Linked DNA regions of Homo sapiens: regions 2, 3, 4 and 5 are each linked to region 1. Evidence: fine-mapped expression QTL. A gene starts in region 1. Each other region holds a variant in brackets. All regions are shown on one strand. Distances are from middle to middle.

The links. PIP is the estimated chance that this variant, and not a neighbour inherited with it, causes the effect.
Region 2: its variant is fine-mapped to the expression of KIZ in whole blood (TOPMed, PIP above 0.99).
Region 3: its variant is fine-mapped to the expression of KIZ in whole blood (INTERVAL, PIP 0.93).
Region 4: its variant is fine-mapped to the expression of KIZ in testis (GTEx, PIP above 0.99).
Region 5: its variant is fine-mapped to the expression of KIZ in whole blood (TOPMed, PIP above 0.99).

The regions. Positions count from the first base shown.
Region 1 is chr20:21,123,923-21,129,027 of GRCh38, forward strand. KIZ (kizuna centrosomal protein) reads left to right here and starts at 2,160. Exons shown (of 13, transcript NM_018474.6): 1 at 2,160-2,282. The coding sequence starts at 2,194. RefSeq lists enhancers at 1,629-1,728, 2,629-2,678 and a silencer at 1,889-2,468.
Region 2 is chr20:21,096,472-21,101,576 of GRCh38, forward strand. The region is part of intron 1 of LINC00237 (long intergenic non-protein coding RNA 237); the gene reads right to left. Among named protein-coding and RNA genes, the nearest start is that of LINC00237, 7.3 kb to the right of the region's middle. RefSeq lists enhancers at 1-111, 4,311-5,105. The variant TGC/T (reference allele first, on the strand shown) is at 2,867.
Region 3 is chr20:21,144,070-21,149,174 of GRCh38, forward strand. It overlaps KIZ (kizuna centrosomal protein), which reads left to right. Exons shown (of 13, transcript NM_018474.6): 4 at 1,496-1,585. Among named protein-coding and RNA genes, the nearest start is that of KIZ, 21 kb to the left of the region's middle. The variant T/C (reference allele first, on the strand shown) is at 2,440.
Region 4 is chr20:21,159,336-21,164,440 of GRCh38, forward strand. It overlaps KIZ (kizuna centrosomal protein), which reads left to right. Exons shown (of 13, transcript NM_018474.6): 5 at 2,536-3,172; 6 at 3,515-3,824. Among named protein-coding and RNA genes, the nearest start is that of KIZ, 36 kb to the left of the region's middle. The variant A/G (reference allele first, on the strand shown) is at 2,005.
Region 5 is chr20:21,242,353-21,247,457 of GRCh38, forward strand. KIZ (kizuna centrosomal protein) reads left to right here. Exons shown (of 13, transcript NM_018474.6): 12 at 1,893-1,936; 13 at 4,127-4,270. The coding sequence ends at 4,224. Among named protein-coding and RNA genes, the nearest start is that of KIZ-AS1, 27 kb to the left of the region's middle. The variant G/A (reference allele first, on the strand shown) is at 2,450.

The sequences.
Region 1 (5,105 bases):
CAATTGGATATAATCTGAATAAAAACTAAATAAAAGTCACATCAGTGCTACCCTTGGACCAGGGCAAGAAGGCCTCTGCCCTGGCTTCTGTGTATTAGAGGTTCTGTTCTAGCCCTTCTCTGCCCATGCTGCTCCACGCAAGGCAAGGAGGTCCCAGGGCCAGATGACAGGCCCACCTGGGGTGCTCACACACATACACACACATGCTCTTCTAGAACACGTTCTAAGTACCCAACACCCTTACCTTCCCTGCTCAAAGGGGCCCAAGCTGCTTTCTAAGGCTTTAAAAGGCCTCTTGGCTGGGTCTTTCCTGCAAGGGTGACCATCACTGGCATGCTCACTGCCCGGCCAAGAGGAGGCTGAGGTGGGGATGTAGGCAGAGTTGGGACTTGCTGGCTGGAGAAGAGGAGGAGAAGAGGCAGGGCACACACATCCCTGCTAGTGTATGAGACCCCCTCACAAAGCAAGACTGAGCCTGGGGTGGGAAATGGAGTTGGGGGGAGCTGGAGAAGCAGGCAAACTAAATTCCACCCTGGTTGTCCAGGTTCTTAAGAAGGCATATTGGTCAAAGTGGAGAGGAGAACACGTATTTTACCTAAGTTTGTTATCTTGAATTATAATTCAATATTTAGGCGGATGGTATGAGGGCCTCCATTCACACTCTTGCCCTGGAACTGGCAAATGTGAATGGAAGGCTGAGTAAAATCATAGTTTTGTGTTGTTGGCCTTTGAGTGTTCCATCTCTCTTACAATTTTAGTTTGTCACACCTTGCACCTTGTATGTGTAAGTAAAATTAATGGCATAGGAAAGAAACCAAAAGAAGTGAACAATAAGAGACTAAAGAAACTCTACAGGCCGGGCATGGTGGCTCATGCAAGTAATCCTAACACTTTGGGAGGCCAAGGTGGGTGGATCACCTGAGGTTGGGAGTTCAAGACCAGCCTGGCCAACATGGTGAAACCCCGTCTCTCCTTAAAATATAAAAAATACCAAAAAAAACAAAAATTATCTGGGTGTGGTAGCGCACACCTGTAATCCCAGTTATTCAGGAGGCTGAGGCACGAGAATCTTTTGAACCCGGGAGGCAGAGCTTGCAGTGAGCCGAGATCACGCCACTGCACTCCAGCCTGGGCAACAGAGTGAGACTCTGTCTCAAAAAAAAAAAAAAAAAAAAGGAAAGGAAGGCAGAGAAGCAGGCTAAGGCTTAATTTTTCTGCCCAGTGGGTTTTGAAATATGGTTGGCTTCCTTCAGGAAGCTTTTTCCCGACGTTGGTGATGATAATAAAACCTGATGCTTTCTATGTGCTGGGCCCACTTATAAACACTAACACATATTAACAATCGAATCCTAAACTAATCCTGTGTTAACAGCCTCCCACTTTACATATGAGGAAACCTGGGGTGACTTGCACACGGCTTGGCAGCTGGGACGTGGATAGGGAATGTACACCCAGGCAGTCTGGCTCCCGGGCTCCTGCTAGAGGATCCTACAGGACATTAGGAGCATTGTCCCTTAGAGCTGTCTGCACAAACGTCTGCTTCCCAAGCAACTAGTTATCAACTTTTCCCTCTCGCCAACGATACTGGCACCTGGAACAATCCTTAGATTCAGCACGGATTTTCGAGTAAGGGGTTGGTCCACTGTCGGGGCTGAGCACGGCTGTTTAGCATTTGAGGGTTTGTCTTTTTTTACTTGGTGTTTTGTGTCGCTTTTGAGTGCTGATATAATAGAACAAGCTTAGTACAGTGCCTGGCACTCAACAAATCCTGGCAAGAAAGGAGATCGAGGAAAAGAAGCAAGCGAGAGACGAAAGAAAGGGAGGGAATGCGCCTTGTAACATTAACGTAGCTTGTGCGAATCCTGGAAGGTGAGGGGAAAGGAGACACCGCGTCAAGGGAGAGAGGAGAGGGCACCGAGCGCCCGCCCCTCCGACGTGGTCCGCCCCGGCCTCACGACGCCCCGCCTCTGCCACGCCTCTTCCCCGCCCCATGCAGGTCTTCGTCCCGCCCCCCACAAAGCCGGCTTCCGCCCCGTCCCTCAGCGGCGCCCCGCCCCCACGGCGTCTTGCCCCGCCTCCTGCAGGCGGCCCGGCGCGGTGTTTACCCGCGGTGCATGGTGGGGCGGTCTCCTTCGGCAACCCCGGCCGAACGGCCACCCAGAGGCTGTGCTGAGCTGGCGCAGCGGCAGCAGCATGAGCCGGACCCTCGCATCGGCCGTGCCCCTGTCGAGTCCCGACTACTACGAGAGGCTGGGCCAACTCCAGCACGGGCTGCGGGACAGGTAAGGGCACTGGGGCGGGGGTGGGGAGTCGGCCCGCGCCGGGGGTCTTCCGCGTGCCCTGCCCCATTTTCCTTCCCGCTCCCCCGTCCGAGGTTCCCCGGGGCCCAGGCCCGCGCGCAACGCCCCCCAGGCTCCCAGTGGGGCCTGGAGGACAGTGTTTACTAGAGCCACCCCCTGTATTGGGGGTGGGAGCGGAGAGAGGTGAGAGACCGCCCCCGCCCCGTCAATAGCAGCTAAAGCCTGGTCTACGGTTTGAGGATGCGGCCGCGTCACAGAATTTGCCCAGAAGTGAAGGTGGGAGTTCTTCTGCCTGTCACTCTCCATCAAGCCTTGTGAGTTTCTCTTGTCCCCTTTTACACGCCCCCTCCCCACTCTCTTCAAATTGCCATCCCGCCGTGACAGCTGCACTGCATCAATGATGACAAGTCCTGGAACGCAGACGGTTGTGTGTGTGTGTGTCAAACATGTGCCCCCGTTTAAACTCAGGAGACTTTTAGGGGTAGCGAGGGCTGGCTAGATTTCCAGCGAAGGGATGAAATTTCCAGCTAGAGAAGTCCAGCTTCCAGAGGGTTCATGATGCCTTTGATTAAGATATGAAAGATGGGAACCACTGAAAACAGCTAGATCTAAGAGTGCATATAGAGAGAAAATTATACCGCAATGTACTATGAATAACCACGTAAAAGATAAATTGCTGGACCTCTTATTTAGCTGCTAAGTTAATTGGAGTTGTAACTCTCATTAGTTGACAAGAAAGGAAATACATTTTTGGATCTCTTGATAAACAAAACATTTAATGAGTGTTAAAAGTTACAAAATCATTCTAGTGAACAGGAGAGCTGTGTGCGTGACAGTGCTAAAATGATAACAATAATTACATGGAAAATAAAGGCAGAAGTGAGCGATTTTGAAAAGGAATTACATTTATCTTACGCTAGATTTAATTCTTGTCAGATATTTATAGAGCATCTACAACAGGCTTCCTTAATTGTCGTTAGCATTTTTTTTACCTTGTACTCCTTTTCTACGTCCTATTTTCTTTCTGACATGTCACCGCTCACCCATATCAGTGACCTCTTAATTTCTGACTTTAAAAAGAAATCTCTTCCTGTAGAGCCTTCCCTGTTTCAACCCATTCCCTAACTTTTGTGACTCTTGGCATTCTTACAGCACTCATAAATGGCATTCTTTTTGAACTATTAATTGTAAGTTATTTTTGTTTCCTGTGCTAGGAACACCTGGCTGTTTATAGTCCTTATGGCACAATAACTGTATAATAATTATGTACTTTATGATTAACACTTATTTAATTATTAAACAAGGTGAGGCTGTTGAAAATATATAAGGAATGTGAATCAAATTTTATAGCCTGTTCACGGTTCTGCATTTCGAGATTTGTTTTATTTTTAAGTCAGTACAAATCTGTTGCTGTGTGTGTTCATTTTTCATTTTAAGAATTTATAACTAACTCAAATTAATGCACACTGGACACAGTTATAGAGGCAAATAATTCTAGATACAGAAAAGGCTGCAGTAGAAATATCAAAACCTGGATTCTAGTCCACGAACAATTGTGTGACCTTGAGCAGGTTGTTCCACCTCTCTGAACCTTGGTTCTTTACCAGGAATGAGGGGGCTTGACTAATATGCAAAGTAAGGCCACAGATTTTTTTCTTTCTCTCTTTGCTAGAATAATGGGCCTTAAAGTAAAAAAAGAAAAAAAAGCTGAAAGCTGTAGTTTTGCAAAGCAATGTGTAAAGAATATTATTGTCTGTATCCAATTTGAGTGTTTGGATGTACCTTTTTGTTTGTTTGTTTATTTGTTTGAAACATAGTCTCACTCTGTCACCCAGGCTGGAGTGCAATGGCATGATCTCAGCTCACTGCAACCCCCACCTCCCAGGTTCAAGCGATTGTCCTGCCTCAGCCTCCCTAGTAGCTGGGATTACAGGCGCCCACCACCAACCCCAGCTAATTTTTGTATTTTTAGTGGAGATGGGGTTTCACCATGTTGGCCAGGCTGATCTCGAACCCCTGACCTCAGGTGATCTGCCTGCCTCTGCCTTCCAAAGTGTTGGGATTACAGGTGTGAGCCACTGCACCCGGCCTTGGTTGTACCTTTTTAAACAAAGAAACACAAAGCATCCCACTGATCACAGATACCACTGTCTCCTAAAATTCCTGAGTCATTTCATAGGGAGCAACCCTGGGTAGTCACAGCTGCTTTATCAATCCAGAAACTTCTGGGAAGTGGGAGACAAAAAAAAACTCCCTCTTTCTCAGCCCTTTTAGAGGTGGTCATTGCAATGTTAGCTGGTCAAATAACCAGCATATTTCCAGCCCAAGTCATGTTAGCTGTAGTTACACGTAGATGTAATTTTATCGTCTGAATGTTTTCCTATGTGTGTACAGTGTTTTTTCTGCATTGTGGTGAAAGTCAATAATTGAATCTAAAAGAGTCTAATGGAGTGACTTGTTACAGTGTGTATAGCACCCACAAGCATGGTAGAAACTTATAAGTGGAATTGGCTCTTACGGTTATACAAAAACATCCTTTTAAAAGGGCCCATTAGCCAGCCGCGGTTTTTTCAGTGCCTATATTGATTCAGAGTAAGATATCATAATAGTCTAGAAACTGACACTGAGATATTAGTAGAGTAAGCTGAAGATGGTATAGAATTGTGGTATCGAGACAAAAACAGAATAACAAGTGGCTTAAAAGTAGAAAACTCAGCAAGATAAGGACCACTTAGCTGTGTAAAACTGAAAGGTCCAAGTGAGGGGTGACTGAAAACATGAACTATGGGTAAGCATCCCAGGGAT
Region 2 (5,105 bases), 27 kb before region 1:
AGGGAGGCTGGGAAATGTAGTTCAGCTGGTCAGCCGTGTGCCCAGTGAGAATAGAATAAATGATGACGAGTGGCAGACAGGAGTCTCCGACCCTGGAAGATTAGTTTGTTGCCAAAGTGCCTATAGCTAGTTAGTGGACAAGTGGAACTATAAGCCTTTCTGCACACTATTTTTTTCCTTACTCCCCTCACTTGGATTCCAGCCAGACTGCAACAGGGCTCAAATGTCATGCTGAAGAGTCTGGTATTCTGCAAGGTTCATCTCCCCTCATCACAGAAGCAGCAAAGCAGAATAAGCCGTTGGAGGCCCTCTCAGGCTCAGCCTACATGAGGTTGCTAGATTGGACTTTGTGGCCAAAGCAAATAGCATAAGGCCCTATGCTTTCAAACAGAGCCAGCCAGCCTCACTGCTAGCCCATGTAGCCCCGTGGTACAGATTTTTAGATGCACCTGTTACTTTACTGACAAACACCAAAACAATGTCTTAGAAACCATACAAACCACACAAATCAACAATGATGGGAAGGGCACCCCTATGTGACACTCAACCTGTCGGATTGGAATCCTAGCCAGGAGAGGGAGAGGAAAGAACCACGGGGCTAGCTGAAATCTATGGATATCAGAGATATTTTGCAGTCATCTCTGAAGAACCTGAACTTGCTTCTGTAGCTTCCAATTATCCACAGGCCGACAAAGCTGTTTCTTTTGGAACTCTGTATCACAGATGGAAATGCTAGAAGGTTAAGCCCACCCAGCACAGCTCATTTATACATTAAAATAGAAGAAAATGAAAGGTGACAGGTTTATCTAAGCGGATCCTATTCATAACTTTTACATGCTAACCTGAATTTTTCAAATTCACTTTTTGACTGGATTTGGGGTTAAGTTGGCCAATGTACAAATGGTCATTAAAAAAAGGGGGCAATGAAAGCAAATGAATTGTTTATTGGAAAAATTTGTTAAATGGCTCTGCACTGTTCTTTTATGTCAATTTAAAAAAAAAATCCTTTATGCTCCATAGAGATTGTACTAAATTTTAAAATCGTTATTCTGCCTTAACCATTCTTTAACTTTTCCCAAGATATAAGGTGTATATTTTTTTACATGTAGGTTGAAAATTACCAAGGTTTATTTCATTTAAGTTATTGGACACAACTCATTATTATATTTCTAATATTTTTGTGCAAGTGAACAAGAGTAGCAGTTACCTCTGATTTGAACCCTATACAGTAAAGTGGTACTTTGGATTTTTCCCCCCAACAATTTCCTGTTATGCTCAACAAACCTCTCTCCAAATGCAAACCTCAGTCTCAGTTAGTAGACTGTGTTGAAAATATGTGTCTAATCACCAAAAAAGCCAAGCATTTATCAGGATAAGCCTTCCAAACTCATCAACTTTAATGGTATCCAGACGGCTTTTCTGGAGAGGGCTCATTAGTTTAAAAAAAAATTCTCAACATTTCCATGTTCTGTAGCTTTACTGACATAGTCAAAAATATAATACAAGCTCCCTGCCTTCTTGTTTAGTAGCCATTTCCTGCCCATATACTGCCTTGAAAAATAGTCAAACAAATGTAAAGAAGATAAATATCAAGCATAAATGAACTAGCGCCAAAGGGGATAGGTTCTGTATATAAAAATGAGCAACACCAGTGGCTGCAGATTAAGAAACTGAATATGTTGGTGTTTAAAATTAGCATGGTTCCCCAAAGGATTGAAAATGTTCCATTTAAGAAAAGAAATGTTTTCAAATCACTCTGCTGACTAGAGGAGTCTGAATCAAAGTCAGAAATTAATAATAGGATGCAGACAGAGACCCCCAATCATAAATAGCAGAGATCATTTTTATATGTATAAAAGCCTGCATGGCCCAGCAGTGTCTATAGCTCTATGGGGAAAAAAACTAATGAAATGCAAGAAGAAAATGTTGAAAATAGAAATGAATGTGCCCGGTAGAAATGCTATTGTCATACTCTTGTGACACAATGACTTCTTTTCTGGAAAAGTAATTCTTCAATTGAGCCCAGGCAAGCATTGTATTCATTGTAAAGTTGTATATTTAAACCTGTAGTCTGAAGGGCTTGCCTGTATTTAAAGCTCAATGCTACCTGGGCTCATTAGAGTACCAGGACAAAGCTCTAGCATGTTACTGCTTTGACACTCCTCAGAACTTCTAGGTAGTTTTCAGTGGCTTCAAGTACTTAGATTGTCAGCAGTATAGGAAATAGAAAGTAGAATATTGAATGGGTGAGGTGTATACATCAAACATGTGGGAATGTATAGACAGAGAGATAAAGATCCTCCTCGAACATCCTATTATATTGCAGAGGGTGCAGAACAATTCCAGGGTAAACACAGGCTTGGAGTAAACAGAGCTGCAATGTGCAGGTTGCACGAATTAGAGCATCCCGAGTCTCATTCAAGATCAAATGGTTCCTTTCTAGGCTTTTTATCAGGAACAGGTTCTGCTCTGGGTAACAGAAAGATAAAAGAACATAATCGCAGCCATGAAATCTTTAGTGTAGAGACAAGAAGAGCAAGGGGTAAGTGTTTAAATTCAGGCCTGTTTTAACAACACAGCAGCCTCATTCTACAAGTGCCTCCTTTCCAGTTTGGGCCAACTCAGTGCTTTGGCTAAATCTGTGAAAGGATGTGTGCCCTCTCCATGGTTTTGGATAAACCTGTGCTTTCTGGGAAGTTGCTTTCAGGATGCGAGTGCACTGGCTGAAGGTGAAGATAGGAAGGACAGTGGTCAGGAGGAGGATAGCCCCGAGCCAGGCAGGACAATATCCAGCCAAAATAATTTACCCTGCTTTCTGGTAAACGCAATTTATTTTTATGTATTTATATTTGAAATAAACAACACC[TGC/T]GCACGTGGGGAGAAAAGTGAAAGATTCAAGAAACAGCACAGTGGAAAGTTGGTCTCCCTGTAGCCCACCTACCTTGGTTCCTTTCAAGTGGCAACTGTGAGCCTTCCTTGCAGATATTTCCATGCGCGAATTGTCACTCAATTTCAATCCATGATCTTTAAAAACACAGCTCCCTATCCCCATCCAGCCCCTCCCAGCACCCAGGTCTTCTCTTCCCCTTCAGGTCATTCTTCACCCAGCCCCACTCCCCAACATATTTCTTCATCTTGGGGTACCTGACAGACGACCTGCTGACACCCTGATGACCCAGGCGCCCTTCTTTTTTTATATATATAAGGGTTAGAGTTATTACTTAATGATAATTACTTATTTTACACGTTGTCGTCTGCTGATGTTTAAAAGATAAGAAGACATTTGTCAGGGCGGGTGCTTGAGGCTCTCAGAGGACTCCGGGAGACACTGCCAAAACGTTTCCAAACTGAATAGTCATTGGGCTGCCAGATAATTCAGAAACTATCTGTATGAGCTGTTTATCAAATTATTAACCGCACAGATGTTGTTTGGCTGAAGAGCAGCTGAATCCCCTCTCTGGCAGCCGCGGAGACAAAGGTCTCCAGGAATAATTGGAGATGTGCATGGAATATTAAATTAATTTACTGCTCTTAATTCTTATGCAAATTCTGACCTCCGATGGCGCCTATCAATTACCCCGCCCGCAGTGAAAGCGAAAGCGACAGTTTCTTCTCTTCGCTTTTTTTTCTTTTTTAAGAACTCGAAAAAGGAAATATTTGCAATAAGCAGGCGGTAGTAGCACTTCGTAGCTGGAATTATTTAATTGAATCTTCAAGTTTTTAGGGATGCCCGTAGAGGATAAAACCCCAGTGCTCAGCGGAGAGGGTGGGAGGGGTACAGGGGGCGGAGGAATCTGTTGGTTTGACTGTACACCTGCGGGCGGCGGCAAAATACAGCCACGAGCCGGGACCAGTAATGTCAAATAAAACATTGGCTTGTAGACGGACGCGGGCCTTGGGAATCGCGCGAGCCCAGCGTTAGCCCGGGGTTTCACCGAAGCCGGCGATTCGAAGGGAGTGGCGTTTCCGCAAACTGCATCGCTAGGGGCCCGGCGTGGAAGCGCCTCTGCGCAACTTTCCTCCACCGCTGCCTACAAGGGAGGCTCTGGCTTCCGTTTACTTATTTTTTAGGAGTTTTAACCTTTGGTTCCTGCTTTTACAACCGCTAACCCCAAAAACATTTTTTTTTTCTTTTTGTTCTTTGTAAAACCAAACCACTATGCTGTGCGTTCATGTTCAACTCTGTTGAAATCCCGGGTGGGCCGAAATAAGATTTAATTGTCTCCTGCGTGGAGAAGTGACACCCACTTTTTCCCCTGAATTGAGCAAACACCAGGGCTTTGTCTGAGCTTGTGGCTTAAACGCCGGGCGGTTTCTGCACCCAGTTGGTGGGTTGTAAGACAGGAGGTTTCCAAGTCTTTCATCATGTTTCTAACAAGGAAAACCAAATCGGGCCCATAATGTCATCAGCCCCGGCCCGACCTCGCCGGGACCTCGGCAGCCCGATGATGTCGCTAGCGGCCCCGGCGCAGCCACGACGCGCCGCCTTTCAGCTCCTCGCAGTCCCCACAAAAGCCAGACAACAATATCAATTAATCATGCAGCGGGCAAACAAGGAGATTTATCCCGCGACAAACAGCCCCACCGAGAGCCGCTGAATGGGCGTGATTAGCATGTGAAAAGGCGAGCAAAACTCCGCGGTTCAACAGCTAAAGAGCAATTTGATGGGGCTGGGATGGGGAAATTACTTGATTAGCGTCCATCGGAGGAGAACACGGTTACAGCCCCTCGGCCGGGAATCCGACAGGGGAACAAAACGCGCTGGTAAACGCGGCGACGTACAGGGAGCGCGAGCGAGGGAGGGAGCGCCGGCGAGGGAGGGAGCGCGGGGGCCGACATCGAGAGGCAATCGGGGTGGGGGCAGAAATAGGGGCTGACCCGCTAGCCCCCGCCAAACCGCGACCACCCTCACCTAGGGCTCCCGGGCGGACTCAAGACTTCACCCAGCGCTGGAGGTCGACCTTAATTTAGAGCGCTGCCCCGGCTCTGGCCCGGAAAGAGAGTGACAGAGGCGCGTGCGGGGGAAAGGCCCACCCACGCTGTCCCTGGAGTCCCCTCCAGTGTCCCCAGGGACGCAGTCCGCGGCCGCCAGCTCCAGGGGCTCG
Region 3 (5,105 bases), 20 kb after region 1:
TTAAAGATACTTCTTTCTGTTCTTTAGGAAGACTTTATGCAGTTATCACTTCCTTTTTCCTTCAGCAAAATGAATTGAATAAAACTCTCATATTTCTATGAGAAAGTGCTCTGTCTTTGGAAGGTATGGCTCTGAAATGATCCTATAATGAGGAAATCAGGTACAATGCTCATTGATCTCAAAGAGCGTAAGAAAACATTTGTAGTCACAAGAAAAAAGAATTTTTATTTAACCTGTAATTATATGTTTATATTGTAATTCATCCCCCATTTCTTTTTGAGATACTATCCCTTGGAATCTGTAAAGGATGCCTGTTTAAAGCTCTTGGGGCTAAAATGTAAACATCTCTAAGTTCAGAGGAATAGATATGGAACAGAGAGATGTAAATTGTATCTTTGTTATTGCTTTATCTATTCCTAGTTTATTATTTTATCATTTGTACTGGCCTGATAAAATTTTCATTTAATTGGGTATCTATTTAGAGAATTACTGCCATCTATCATATAGTACTCTGCTGGAGAAAAAAAAATCCATACCTAACTGTTACTAAAAATGAGACAGCATATATTACCTTTCAAAATATTTTGAGGGAAACAAATCAGTTTGGTTATTATTGCCCATTTGTTTTTCGTATGTCAAAACAAAGCTCAGGCCTATTTTATGTTCAGAGAACTAAGGAAACAGCTTTCTCATTTCATCTCATAGGTGTGTTTCTAATTACAGTGCATACCTGCCTAATTTAGAAAATGTTCTGATACTTATCTTTGATGGACCACAATCCATGACTTTTTTAAGGCTTTAATTACTAGCGTACTGAATCAAAGTGCTTTTTTATGCCTTGCTTTTAAGAAAAAGCCATTTTAAGATTGAATCACTTTCACCAATTATAGTGTGGTGATGATGCAGACATCTTTATGTAGTTATTAGTGCCAGAGCAAATTGGTTTCTGATCATTGATGTCTGCAGTATATTTTTATTCATAGAAAATGGAATTTGTTTTAAGTTGATGATCTAGCAAGTATGCTCAATTGCTGTGACGATCAGAATCATGATATTTTGTAGATATCATATAGATAAGAAATCAGTAGGATTGATTTTTTTTGTTTGTTTGGGGCAAAACTTCTAAAAGGAAACACTGTCTAATGTGCTACTTTCATAATAAAGGAATTGTATTTTTGTGATAAAGTATCAAACTGTATACATATATATACACATATACATGTGTATATATATAAAGATTTTATTTCCTAAGTTGATGAAAGTAAAAATCCATCAAATCTTATTTTATTTAAAAATTGTAGCATTTTGTAAAATTCAACTTTTGATATGTGTCATTTGCAAAATTGTTCATTTTCTAAGATAAGGTGAATTTCTTGGCAACATCAGCTTTTACTTTCTACTTCAATGCTCCCTGTATGTTGTAAAGACCGCAGTATACAGACAGGTGCTAGTTGTAAAAATATTTATCACAAAATCAAACTTTCTTTATATTTAGCTCGAATATGAGACTCAAATTAAGAAGATGCTATGCTCAAAAGATAGCCTGGGACTAAAAGAGGAACTGACAGATGAAGACAGAGAAAAGGTAATAAACTAAATTGGTAACCTTTCTGTTAACAGAGGAATTCTGGAGTGTTTATATCTTGAGATATTGTTTTAAATAAAATCATCTTATTAGGAAGATCCCTTTGATTAAACCTTACGTGATTATTTAAAGATTTTTGCTTACAGAATATTGCTTTAATGTCTAATTTAATTAAGTTTGCTGAAAGGGTGTTACTTTGTGAAGAAAGGATAGACTCTAAAGAAAACCTCAGTGTTGTCAGTAGGTAAAATTGTTTTTCTAAATCATGCCTTGTAGCTGCTCTTTTCTTAGTTTGAGAAGTGTTTTAAATGAAAAGTAAACAAAATATGGCATTTTGATTCTTTTATTTGTGCGAATATACATAATTTTGTACATTTTAACCTTTGCACAGAAAACGTGGAAAGAAAAGATTGCATATCTAAGCAATAGACAAAAAGATCGACAAGGAATACTTAAATAAATTCTGCTATGTATCTGCTATAATGCAGGCTTCTAATCCTCCTGCCTATCTCCATATAAATGATTCTGTTCAAGACCGTAGATGTTTTCTTCACTAAAAGCAGTAAAGCTCTTTTAGATGAAATGTCTAAAAACATCTTGTAATAACTTGGAGCATGCTGGCAAGAGTAGTCACTTGTGACTATGTGTGAAACCCCCTCAGCCAGTCGATATTGTAATAAGCAAAAATGGTAGCATCACTCCATTATTCAGAAAAGCCAACAGCGTGCTTGTTCCTTAGGCTGCAGCATTCATTAAGAAAAGCTTACTGGGCTGAAAGCTGGAAACAGATGATAACGGGATATGATTTTCATATTTAATGCTTTCCTTGGAAGAGTGTGTGTGCTACAGATTGA[T/C]AGAAGAATCAACTGCTACTTTACTAAAAGACTTTCAGGTTTGCCCTATAGCTACCGATGGAATCATTCAGCCAAGAAATTAACTTTTTCTCCTTTTACCTGCTTTATATATCTGCTAAGCAGGCTGCCTGGCTGCCAGTAAATGTTATTATGCAGTTAACTGTTGGGTATTTAAGACTCTTATCAGAAAAGAAACAGAGGCCACACTATTTTGTTTTTATAGTAGGAGGAAGGTTTTAGTTTTTCTTTCTTCCGTGCATTAGCAGGCATTAATCTGAGTTTATAGGAAGTTTTCGTTTTCCTTCCTCATAGATTAAAAAATTAAAAAAAAAACCCTAGAACTTAGAGCATTCTTTAAACTGTAAGATACAAAACACCAAGCCCCAGCAACCTTGACCTATATAAAAAGGCTTTAATGATAAATGACGTATATGCCATTCGATGTAGGCCAAATGTGGTATGATGTGATAGAATTTTAGAGCATTCAGGCAGTTTTTCTATTTGATATTCGGTCATGAAATAATTGATGTGTTTTAATCTAGAAGCCAGTTAGTTCTTTCTATGCCATTCTTGATAGACATATTCTTAGCACGGCAGTGTCAATGGTACTTCAGGAAAACGGAAGCTTTTTTTTTCTTTATTTACCCACTGATTCTTTACCTTGCATGTAGTTGTGGAGTCTCCTTTTAGGACATATTTAAAATTAGGGCAAGAGACATACAGTTGACAACCCCTTAAAATGTTACATATAATAATTAGAAGTCTTTTCATTTATATGGAAAGGTGTCATTTCCTTAAAAGCTTTGACTATTGGCTGTATAAGAATCGATTAGGTAACACTTTGAGAAATTTATATTTTGCATTTTCTAATTTTCCATTGATGTTCAACCAATTAAAAGGTAAATACATTTCAGCAAAATCATGTTTTAGTTAATCCTTATACTAATTCCTGAACCATTCCTTATCATATGAGTTATAGCTTATTGTTTAGTGGAAATCCAAGCTTCTCTTCTTTGGGCAGTCATATGAATTGGTCTTGGTCATTGACCTCCAGGGCCTTTCCTGAAGCATAGTACAGTCACTGGTTGAATCAATAAATAGTTGTTAAGCATCAGTTCTCTTTGAGAAGCAACAGTAGGCCCCTCTATGAAGGCCACAATTTTCTTACCTTCAGAGTGCTTCTCAGAAAGCAATGTTCTTTCTAAGGCACAGAATAGTGTGTGATAAAGTGCCAGTCACGTGGGACAAACATGAGCAATGAGAAGAAAGAAGATTCTGCTTCCTGTGAATTGAGTAATCCCAGCCCTGGTGGAGGAGGTGGTGTGTGAGCTGGCATAGAAGGATGTGCAGGATGCCAGTCAGTGGTAGAAAATGAGCTTGGAAAGCTACCTTGTGGGATTTGGTACCTGGAACTATGGTCCCAGGCTAAGAACTGAGATTTCCTCCTGGAATTTGTGTGTGTGTGTGTGTGTGTGTGTGTGTGTGTGGCAGCAGATGAAGGAAGGACTTGTGAGCAGAGCAGTCACATCCCATGTGTGCAGCTGCGGGAAGATGAGGCTGGCAGTGCTGTGCAGGATGAGCCTGGGGAGGAGTACGTGGAACTGAGGAAATCAGGCTCCATTCAGACAGGAGGAATTAACAGAATGGAGGACCTGTATTGGGGATGGCCATTGAGGTGGAAAACACTAACAAAGGGGAGAGGATCTATCAAATTGGTGATCATTCTGAATTATAAAAAGGTATTTTTTAAGTGGCTATACAGCTTTCAACCATAGGCAGTAACTTGGATGCCAAGAAAAGTCATCAAGTGGTGTGTGTCCATTTTTTAAATATAAAAACTCTGGCTCAGTTTTGGTGTAGGACATCTATTATTTGCTTGCATCCAGTAGTTGCTCTTTAGAATCATACATTCGCTTAGAAGGATTAATAGTTAGTCTGTTCATCTGCCATGCTTGTTTCCACTATTAATTTACTTAGTCAGCTTACAAAAAATGTGTCTTACCAAAAAGGCACATTTCAAGCCCCACTCAGATCCTCACAAATTTTACTATAGTAATTCTTCACCTCTATTATATATATTGTTATTTTTTATTTTGGGGGCAAACTCTGTTTCCAGACATGTTCTTCTGGTTGAAGAACGGTGACTAGAGAATATACATAAAAACACATAAAAATGTATGTCCTCAAGAAAGATTGAGATGGCGTTTTTGAATGACAGTATACATTTGGGGATAGGGTTGTAAGGTTTCTTTGAACTATTATGCTGTGAAATATATTCTACTAGAAATAGAAGCAAACTGATCATACTCTGTCAGGGATGGATAGGTGTGGAGGACCAGGGAATTTCATCACAGAGCTGAAGGCTTGTTGAGGAGCTTCACTTCCACTGTGGTAACCCTCCCTGCAAGGATCAGGTGGGAGAATGGTTATAAAGGTGTTATTCCCACTTTTAATACTGGTAGTAACAATGGGTAATAATCACTGCACTTTTACTTTGCTAGGTGCTGCGTTAACACTTTATGTGTATCAACTCATTTAATCTTCTCAACAACCCTGGAAGTAGAGGATATTGTTGTCCCCATTTTATAGTAAGGCTCAGAAAATTTAGTTAACTTGCCGAAAACTACACAACCAGGCAGAACCAATATTCAAACCCAGACCACTGG
Region 4 (5,105 bases), 35 kb after region 1:
ATTTTTTATTCATTTGTTCATTTTCTTTTTTTGTGATAGCTTTATAGTTTTTATTATATTCAGAGTTGCGCAGCCATAATCACAATCAATGTTAGCATACTTTCATTCCTGAAAAAGAAACCCCATACCTGTTGGGAATCACTGTTTACCTCCCCCCGATTCCTTCTACTCCCCACCACCCACCCCAGCCCTTCGGTCCCCAGCCTGGGGCAAACAGTTAACTACTTCCTGTCTCTAAAAATTTGCCTATTCTGAACATTTTCTATAAATGAGATCTTACAGTATATGGTCTTTTATGACTGGCTTCTCATTTAGCATGATATTTTCAAAGTTCATCCATGATGTAACAGGTATCAGTAATTCATCTCTTTTCATGGCTGAAAATTATTCTCTTGTATGAATGTATTACATTTTATCTAGTCATCTAATGTTGGCCATTGGAGTTATCTCCACTTTTGGCTATCATAAATAATGTTGCTATGCACATCCTTTTACAAGATTTTGTGTAGTCATATGTTTACACTCTCCGTACTTCTGCCTAGATATGGAATTGCTGGTTAGATGGTAACTCTGTTTAACTTTTTCAGGAGCTGCCAAACTCTTCTAAAGTGGGTGCACCGTTTTATATTCCCATCAGCAGTGTATGATTCTAATTTCTCCACATCCTGGACTACACTCGTTATTGCCTGTTGTAGTGAATTCTTATAATTTTATGTTGCCTCAGCATCCATTTTAAATCTAAGTTGAACCTTCTCATACCAGAAGCAGGACTCAGTCACCCCTGACACAGTTGGCAGTTCCACCCTCCTTCGCAGTTCCTCAGTGTGGTCGGTCCAGATAACCTGCCTTACACAGCTGCTCTCTGGTGACCACTTCCCTATGGGACAGCTGGATGCAGCCTGCTTGACAGGCCCTTCTGACCTTCGCATCCCCCATGGACCATATGCCACAGTGACCACCTCTCAGTCACTGGGTAACCTCCCAGAACTCATGCCTCCTTGCTTTAAACTCACCAGTTAAAACTCCCCAGGCTGCCTGTGGGAAACCTGTTTGGATAACACCTGCGACTCAGTAAAGACATTGGCTCATGTGTCCTTCCCCTCAACCCCTGCTTCTACCATGTAAGGACACGGGTCCCTTTTCTCTCTCTCTCTGCCTGCGCTCCCTGATGTTTGTGTGTGTGGCCTCCAGGTGTGCCATGTACTCCCCAGAACCTGTAAGTGATAATGTCTTTATTTCCATCTCATATTTCTCCTAATTATTGGAGGGGTACTCTCCATCTTAAAAATCCTAAATTAAGACACCTGTCATTCTTAGTATAGCCATTGATATGGGCTGAATATTTGTGTCCCCCCCAAAGTTCATATATTGAAATTCTAATCCCCAAGGTGATGGTTTTTGAGGGTGAGGACTTTGGGAAGTGATTAAATCAAGGGGGCAGAGCCTTCATGGGTGGGATTAGTTTCTTTATAAAAGAGGCCCGTGGAAATTTGCCTGCCCCTTCCACCCTGCGAGCACACAGCAGAAAGATGCTGTCTGAGAGAAAGCAGTTCCTTACCAGACCCAGAGTCTGCTGGCGCCTGCCTTGATCTTGGACTTCCCAGCCTCCAGAACTATCAGAAACAAATTTCTGTTATTTATGCACTGTTTATGGTATTGTTATAGCAGCCTGAACAGACCAAGACAGCCATCATAGTGGGTAAAGTGATATCTTATTGTGCTTTTGAATTATGTTTCTCTAATGAATAATGATATTAAGCATCATTTTATGTGTTTATTGGCCATTCATATATCTTCTTTGGAGAAATGTCTATCCAAATCCTTTTCCCACTTTTAAGGGCTGTTTGTCTTTTTATTATGTAGTTATATGACTTCTTTATGTATTTTGGGTACTAGACCCTTATCAGATACATAATTTACAATATTTTCTCCCATTATGTGGGTTATATTTTCACTTTCCTGATGACGTCTTTTCAAAGCATGTATTTCTTTTTTCAAAAACAT[A/G]TTCTATACTTTCTTTTTTTTGAGATGGAGTCTCCAGGCTGGAGTGCAGTGGCATGATCTCGGCTGACTGCAGCCTCTGCTGCCCGGGTTCAAGTGATTCTCCTGCCTCAGCTTCCTGAATAGCTAGGATCACAGGCACCTGCCACCGTGCCCGGCTAATTTTTGTATTTTTAGCAGAGACGGGGTTTCACCATGTCAGCCAGGCTGGTCTCGAACTCCTGACCTCAGATGATCTGCCCACCTTGGCCTCCCAAAGTGCTGGGATTACAGGCATGAGCCACCACACCCGGCTTACTTTCTTTACTATATTTGTTTTGTGAACTATCATTGTTATTAAAATTAAATCCTATGGACTTTACTGCTTTTTGCTCATTCATTATGTAGGAAGCCATGAGTTTAATAATACATGGTAGGTGCTGATTTCAATAATCATGCTTTGTTTGACCTCCTTTCATTTCTGGAAAAAAAAAAAAACCCCACCTAATTGTTTATACACAGTATGTTTAACTCACATCTCTTTTGGTGTTGCAGGTTGCAGTGCACGAGGGGATTAACTCAGGAACAGCCATGTCAAGAGGATTGTATCAACCAGCAACAATCTTTATGGGCCGCCAAATGTCAGCCATCTTAAGCATGAGAGATTTCAGTACAGAGCACAAATCTCCCCAGCCCACAAAGAACTTTTCAATTCCTGACCCACATTCACACCGACAGACAGCCCAGAGCAGTAATGTGACAGACAGCTGTGTAGTACAAACTAGTAATGACACACAGTGCTTAAATAAGTCTGACAACATAGATGGAAAGGCATCTCTTCAGATTGGTGAGAAAATGCCAGTCACAGCCAGTGTATTGTCTGAGGAGGAACAAACTCATTGCTTGGAGATAGGAAGTAACACACGTCATGGCAAGAGTAATTTATCTGAAGGCAAAAAGTCTGCTGAACTCAATTCCCCGTTACGGGAAAGATTAAGTCCAGAGAACAGAACCACTGATTTAAAGTGTGACAGTTCCAGCGGATCAGAGGGAGAAATACTGACACGGGAACATATTGAAGTTGAGGAAAAAAGAGCCAGCCCGCCAGTCTCTCCGATACCAGTTTCAGAATACTGTGAATCTGAAAATAAGTGGTCTCAAGAGAAGCATTCTCCTTGGGAAGGTGTTTCAGGTGGGATGAGAGGCTGAGTTTGGTTGCTGATTTTTCTGGGTGGTAGTGATCTTATGTAAGGACAAAATATACTAATTATCTCTCTTTCATAAAATAGTATCTTTGCCAACAAATTCCATTCTAATGAACTCTTAAATATGTACATGGGAGTGAATTTGCTGATTTTTAAACCCACTGTGATTTTTTTAAACATTTGAAAACGTGTTTAAGCTTTTAAGTTCCGTAATGAATTGTGTGTGGGTTGCTTCTCCATGTTTTTAACTGATGAGTAATTCTGCTGTGTGTTACCTTGCTTCCTCCTGAAGTCAGTGATTGGTAATCAGTTCATGTCGCCACTTGCAGATCATCTTGCTCACAGGGAACCAAAGTCACAAAAGCCCTTCAGAAAAATGCAGGAAGAGGAGGAGGAAAGTTGGAGCACCAGCAGTGACCTTACCATTTCAATAAGTGAAGATGATCTGATTTTAGAGAGCCCAGAACCACAGCCAAATCCAGGTGGCAAGATGGAGGGAGAAGATGGAATAGAGGCCTTAAAATTAATCCATGCTGAGCAAGAAAGAGTTGCCCTATCCACTGAAAAAAATTGTATTTTGCAAACCCTAAGCTCTCCTGATTCAGAAAAGGAATCCTCCACTAACGCACCAACAAGAGAGTAAGCCATTCAATTTTTTTTTTCTACTGTTCTGTTTTTAATTGTAGACATTTCTAGAGACCATTCCACTGGGAATGTATTATCGAGCACTCAGCCATGAATGTGTAAATTCCTTAAGTCTCATAAGTAATCTTGTAGGCAAGACCTAATTTTCTTTCTGTCCTTCTTTCTTCTTTCTTTCCTTCCTCCCTTCCTTCTTTCTTTGACAAAAAAACTTTAAAAGTTTGAATATCATTGAATCATGGTGATTGCAGCTTATAATTATATACACATAATCCCTGGTTAACTTATAAGTCATTCCCCAACCCCCTACTCTCCAGGCTTTCAGAAAATAAATCTGTTTTGAAGTTTTGGTACCACAGAAGGTGACAGTTAAACTTACTAGGAATGCAGCATTAGAGTCTGAGAACTTTATGTCTAATTAATTTGCTTAATCCTTATATTCCTTGCCATATTATCATTTTTGTCATCTGATTAAATATGAGTTAATAAGTTCTTCTAATTGTATATGTAAGCCAGATTTCCTTTTTTGAATCTAAATAGGAAACATTAGAATCTCTAATGTTAAATGGGAACATCAGCATTATACATTTGAGAACTTATATTATCCGACTGATAAAAATTTGTATATGTTTTTGTGCTACTGATTGGAGACGCTAGAAGAAAACTTTGTAGAAAGTTCTTGTGTATCTACTATGTAGAAAACTTGTTAACTGTTGAAAAGTGATTTTGTGCTGAAAAATGGCATTAATAACATCAAATCTCTTTTAGGGGTAGAAGGAACCTAAGTAAACAACCTAAGGTAGATCTCACCTTTTACAAATGAGGAAACGAAGGCCGGGGCAGAGTGGTGTCACGTAGGTCTACTGGATCTGCTGGGGCAGAACACCCCACAGCCTGTCTGCCTGAATGTCACACCACTGCCCCACCCCCAGAATTTTCTGTTACACCGTAATGCTGGTCACCCTTTCATTTCCACAAAGCTGGCAGCAGTGAAAAGCCAAGTGGGCCTTTTTGTACGGCATATGTTCTCTTTAGAACACCATTGTACCTTTTAATATATTGCCTCTTACCATTCATTGTCTACTTATGGTGAAAAGTTTATGAATAGGCTTTAATTGATAGATTGTATCCAAACTGATGTTCAGGAAATATTTATTAAGAGCATATCCAAGTACAGAGTTCTTGCACTATGGATGGAAGAACCGACATGGTTCCTGTCATTGGGAAATTTGATTTATTGGAGAGGCAAGCCAAATGGATTTTTCTAGTAATAATACT
Region 5 (5,105 bases), 120 kb after region 1:
GAGGAAGTGGAGCGACCAGATTTGCATTTCAGAAAGCTCACTCTCATTGCCTAGTGGAAAATGGATAGTAGGGGACAAGATGAGTGTGTGTCACCAGTTAGGAGGTTGTTGCAGAGAGAGAAGCAAGAGCTGATAGTTTTGTTGACCAGTGTACTGGCAGTGCCCAGGGAACTGGTGAGGACTGCAGGAAGTATTGCAGGGGGGTCGAGAGGGGTGGGGGTGGAATTGGCAGGACCGAGGGCCAGACTGGATGTGAAGGAAAGAGGAGTGGAGACTGGAGAGGGGCTTGGGGAGACTAGTGGGTCAGGGGTGCCATTTGCTGAGACGGGAGGAGCTGAGCTCACCTGCCACTGTGTCCTTTCTCCTGTGTCAGGGGCTCCCTGCTGCCCCACCCCGCCACACCTTGTTCCCCAGTCCTGTCCTGTGAAGGCCTCTGCCTTTGGAGGTGCCGGGCTTCCTCTGTGGTCCTGCAGCTCCCCCAATCACCTGCCACAGTGCTCTCCATCCACCCAGCTGGCAGAGATCTCTCCTGCTCCCCCTGTGGCTCTTCTTGTATGGACCGCGGCTGGCAAATTAGCCTCTTTCCACCCCTCCTAGCATTTTTATAATCCACCCTCCCCTGCAGCACCTAGCCCAGTGTCCTCAGGTAGGGGGAGGTGGGGAAATAATAGACATCCCTGCAGTTGCATTTAGTGTGTGTGTGATGTGTGTGTCACTTTCTGTAAAATGGGTTCTTGCAGGCTCACCTCACTGACAGGTCCCCACAATCCTGGCAGCTCCAGGACTGTCAGTCAGCTGCTGGCCTTTCCAGATGCTCGTAGGGGTCTTCCATGCTTCATGGAGAAATGGCTGTGAGCACTACTCAGTCATGGCAATTAAAGAAACAGGCACTAAATTTAAAGGGAACACTGAAAGGTAGCCTAGAAAATGATACCTTAGTGGAGCATGTTTTTCTGAAAAAAAAAAGTAAATTATAGCAAAACGTAGATTTTTAAGCCAAAAGTCAACCACACTTGGCCCAAAGGGAAGGAAAAGATATATTTGCAGGGTTTCCTGTGTCCAGAAGAACAAGGCCCTGGCTGTGAGAAGGGCGGTGGTGGTGCGTGGGGTAGGGCAAAGTGTCGAGCCATGCACCAAGAATGGTTTCTCTCCCAACATCTCCTGTGACCATTCAGGCAATTCTGAAAGAATCTCAGCATCATAAAACATTCGAGTGACACTCCCTGAGGAGACTTTTAAATTCATTAAAATTGCAAAAGCTCCTGAAAAGGCACACAGAGAAATCATATCCCGTGGAGCCAGTTTTCTTGTCATATTGGCCTCAGTCGAGACGGTCCTGGACGCCACGAACACTAGCATTTATGTGACACTTGCAGGGCCCTCTACCAGGTGTTTGTTTTGAACTCCTTTCTTAACTGTTAGTATTGCTGCCACTGGTTTGACTAAGTATTTTAACTTCCTTACCAACATCTTGAATTCCCTACTGCAAGTGTTTCATTTTTAGCTTGCCTGAAAGCACTGAAGTTTGATGCATCACTGTCTTCCAGAAGACTGTTGAGGGAAACCGGTCCCCTGCCTCAGGGGAACATGCGATCATCCTCCCCCAAGAACACGTGGCCCCACACAGGCACAGCTCAGCAGGGCGGGGTGGGCCATGCAGACCTGCCGAGGGGACACACGCAGGACGGGAGCAATGCTGTTGAGTAGCGACCCTCCCGACAAGGCCACGCTGCATCCCGATATTTTCCCTTTACTTTTAAACTCTGGGAAGTAAGTGTAAAGTTCTGGCCTCCAGTGAATCAAAGTGCTTCTTCTCTAATGCGTTCATTATGAAAATATTAGTCTCATTGTCTTTTCTTTTTCAGAACTTAGACTGTTTCTTTATTTTGCAGGCATGAAAACAAAAAGAAACCCGTGATCAATTTAAAATCTAATGGTGAGAGAGATAATCGGACACTAGATTTTCTTTTTCTGTTTTAACCAAAAAACTCTGTGACATGCATTTGTTGTTTGCACCCTCATGTGAGTCCTGAAGCGGGCATGCTCACAGGGACTGCCATTGCAGCTGTCCCTGGGGTGGAACCTGAGGGCTTCTGGAGGCTCAGTTCTTCACAGACAGGACCACACGGGTGCCATGGACCACAGGGGCAGAGCATTGTAATTTGCAAGTATGAATTTGCAGGGGATCCTGGCCTCCATGTCTAATTAATTATCAGCACCCTGTATTTTACCAATGAAATGTTTCTTGCCTCTCTCCTCATCCTCAGAAGCACCCATTGCTCATGACCGGACAGGCTCTTGGAGTAACTCTAACTGGTTTCCTCATACCCAGTTCCTCCCAGCTCCTGGGAACTCCCAGCTCCTCCACCTGGCCACCAGCCTCCAAACCCTGGCTTCCCCCGACCTTCCTGTGTAAGGACGGCCAATGCCTCCCCGTACCTTCAGGGTA[G/A]AGTCTGAGCTTTCTCCATTCCTGGGAGGCCCCAGCCCTGCTCTCCAGCTTATTCCTCCCAAGGTCGCCTCTTTGGGTCAAGCCACAGTCAGCTTTTTTCAGCTGTAGCACACCTATGCCTCTGTACCTTTGCCCATGTTGTTCCTTCTGTAGGGAGTTCCTTTTCCTTTTCCTCAGCCCAGTGAGCTCCTATTCATCCTTCAACACCCAACTCACGGGAAAAATCTAGCCCTCCTACCATAACACTGTGGCATATCCCCTGCCCAGCTTGGGCTCTCTCACCTCCTGTCTCCTTAAACCCCTTATACCTTAAATTAAAGGTATAATTTGATTAATAGTTTTACTGACAATAACAAAAATATTCGCTGTTTATTTAGCCCCAGTATGTCCCACTTTGCTAACCCAGTATGGAAACTGATTCAGAGCTGCTGTAGAACCTAGGCCTAGGAATCTGCCTTTTTAGCAAGCACCCCACTGTGAATCACTCTTCTAGAAGGACAGCTACCTACTGTGGGGGAGACAAGTACCCAGTGGGTTGTGATGGAGAGTATGGGCTTGAGTCAGATGACTTGGATGGGACTCCCAGCTTGGCCACTCACTGGCATTGTGATTGTGGCCAATTTCTTAACCCCCTTCAGCGTCCGTTTGTTTGCACAGTGAAATGGAAACATTAATACTTACCTTGCCAGGCTGGTGCGAGGATGAGATGGGGTTGTGTATGAGAAGTCAGCACAGAGCTGGCAGGTGGTGCCATGCAGGTGTCAGCAGAGTTAAGGGATTGTTGATGTAGTAGACGTGGTCCGCTCCACTACACCTTGCCAGACCACCTGCAGGGCACCTCAGCTCCAATTCACAGACGCGCCTACAGCTTCCTGCACCAAGCAGCTGTGTCTCTCTGCCTGAGGGCTTTCTCTGGCTGCAGGAGCGTGCTCAGCCCTCACAAGGCAGCCCAAAGTACCAGGGAGTTGATGCCCTGGGTTGAGAGCAACCCTCAACCAACAGAGGCAAGTTGGTGGATCAGTAACCCCACTCCCTTGCTCTTCACTGGGACAATCTGGGGAGAGTTCTGCAGTCTCTCAGGGGGCCCCAGCAGGCTGAGCCTTGCCTGTCCACTCACTGCCAGGCACCCACTCGTCATCATACCCTTCATTGGCTTCCTGTCTTCCTTGTGTCACTGTCCCCATGGTTCCTGGGATCACCTCTCAAGTAAATGATGTGGACCAAAGTCCTGTCTCAGGGTAACCATCTCTGCTTATTCCTCTGCCACGTCTTTCCCTTCTCCTCTCTGCTCTCATAAAGAAGAATGGGAGATGAAAGTGGAGGGGCAGCTGAGGTGGGGCGGCATCAGGCTGATACAACACCCCAGGGAACCCTGCTTCCATGTAACCCTGACCTTAAATCCCTATCCTATAATAAAGAGTTGGGCACAACAGAAGGGAAAAGGAAGTATTCTGCAAATTGTTTTCCATAACAGTGCAGAGGACACACTTTGCAATGTGTAATTTGTGCAGTATGACATGCATTTGGGTGTGTCTGGTCAGGTACATCATGTGGTGTCCCTGTTATGCATTTTGCAGACTGACACTCTGCTTAACCAGTCCTTCCGTGCTGTGCTGTTTTGTAAGCTCTTAACCAGAATGCAAAAATGTTAAATAACTGTCTGGTTTTATTTTCCAGCCCTCTGGGATGAGTCTGATGACAGTAACTCAGAAATTGAGGCTGCTTTACGCCCCAGAAACCATAACACCGATGATTCTGATGATTTTTATGACTAACGTGCTGTGACATTGGTTTCAAATAAAGTCTTTAAACAAACTAAAATCCTGTGTTAATATGTGATGTCCAAAATAAATATGTTCTTTTAAGTTTTCTCACTGTTTTATGGGAAAACTTAGGACTACATTGCTATTCAAGTGAAATTTTATGACATAAATATGAACTTGCATATTCATTTTTAAGTTCATCATGAAGCAAAGTGATGAATGCAATGCCCATCAAAATTCAAGGTGGTTTCTATGTTAGAAATTAGCCAGCTGATCTTAAATTCATATGGAAATTCAAGAGGCCCAGAATAGCCAAAACAATCTTGCAAAAGAAATACAGTTGGGAGGCCGAGGCGGGTGGATCACTTGAGGTCAGGAGTTCAAGACCAGCCTGGCCAACATGGTGAAACCCCATCTCTACTAAAAATACAAAAATTAGCTGGGCGTGGTAGCATGCACCTATAATCACAGCTGCTCTGGAGGCTGAGGCAGGAGAATTGCCTGAACCTGGGAGGCAGAGGTTGCAATGAGCCGAGATCACGCCACAGCACTCCATCCTGGGTGACAGAGCAAGACTCCTTCTCAAAAAAAAAAAAAAAAAAAAAAAAAATAGAGTTAGATTTCTCACATTTCCTTATTTCAAAACTTACTGAAAAGCTACAGTAATTGAGATACTGTGGTACTAGATAAACAGAAATCAATGGAATATTGACTCTGTTGATTCATATGTATCTAGAATTGAGAATACAAAAACACTGTCACATTTAGTCAATTAATTTTTGACAAGGGTAACAATTTCTGCTACTCAATGGGATAAAGAATAGCCATTTCAACAAATGATGCTGGGACAAATGGATAGCCACATGGCCAAAGAATGATCTTGGATCCCTACC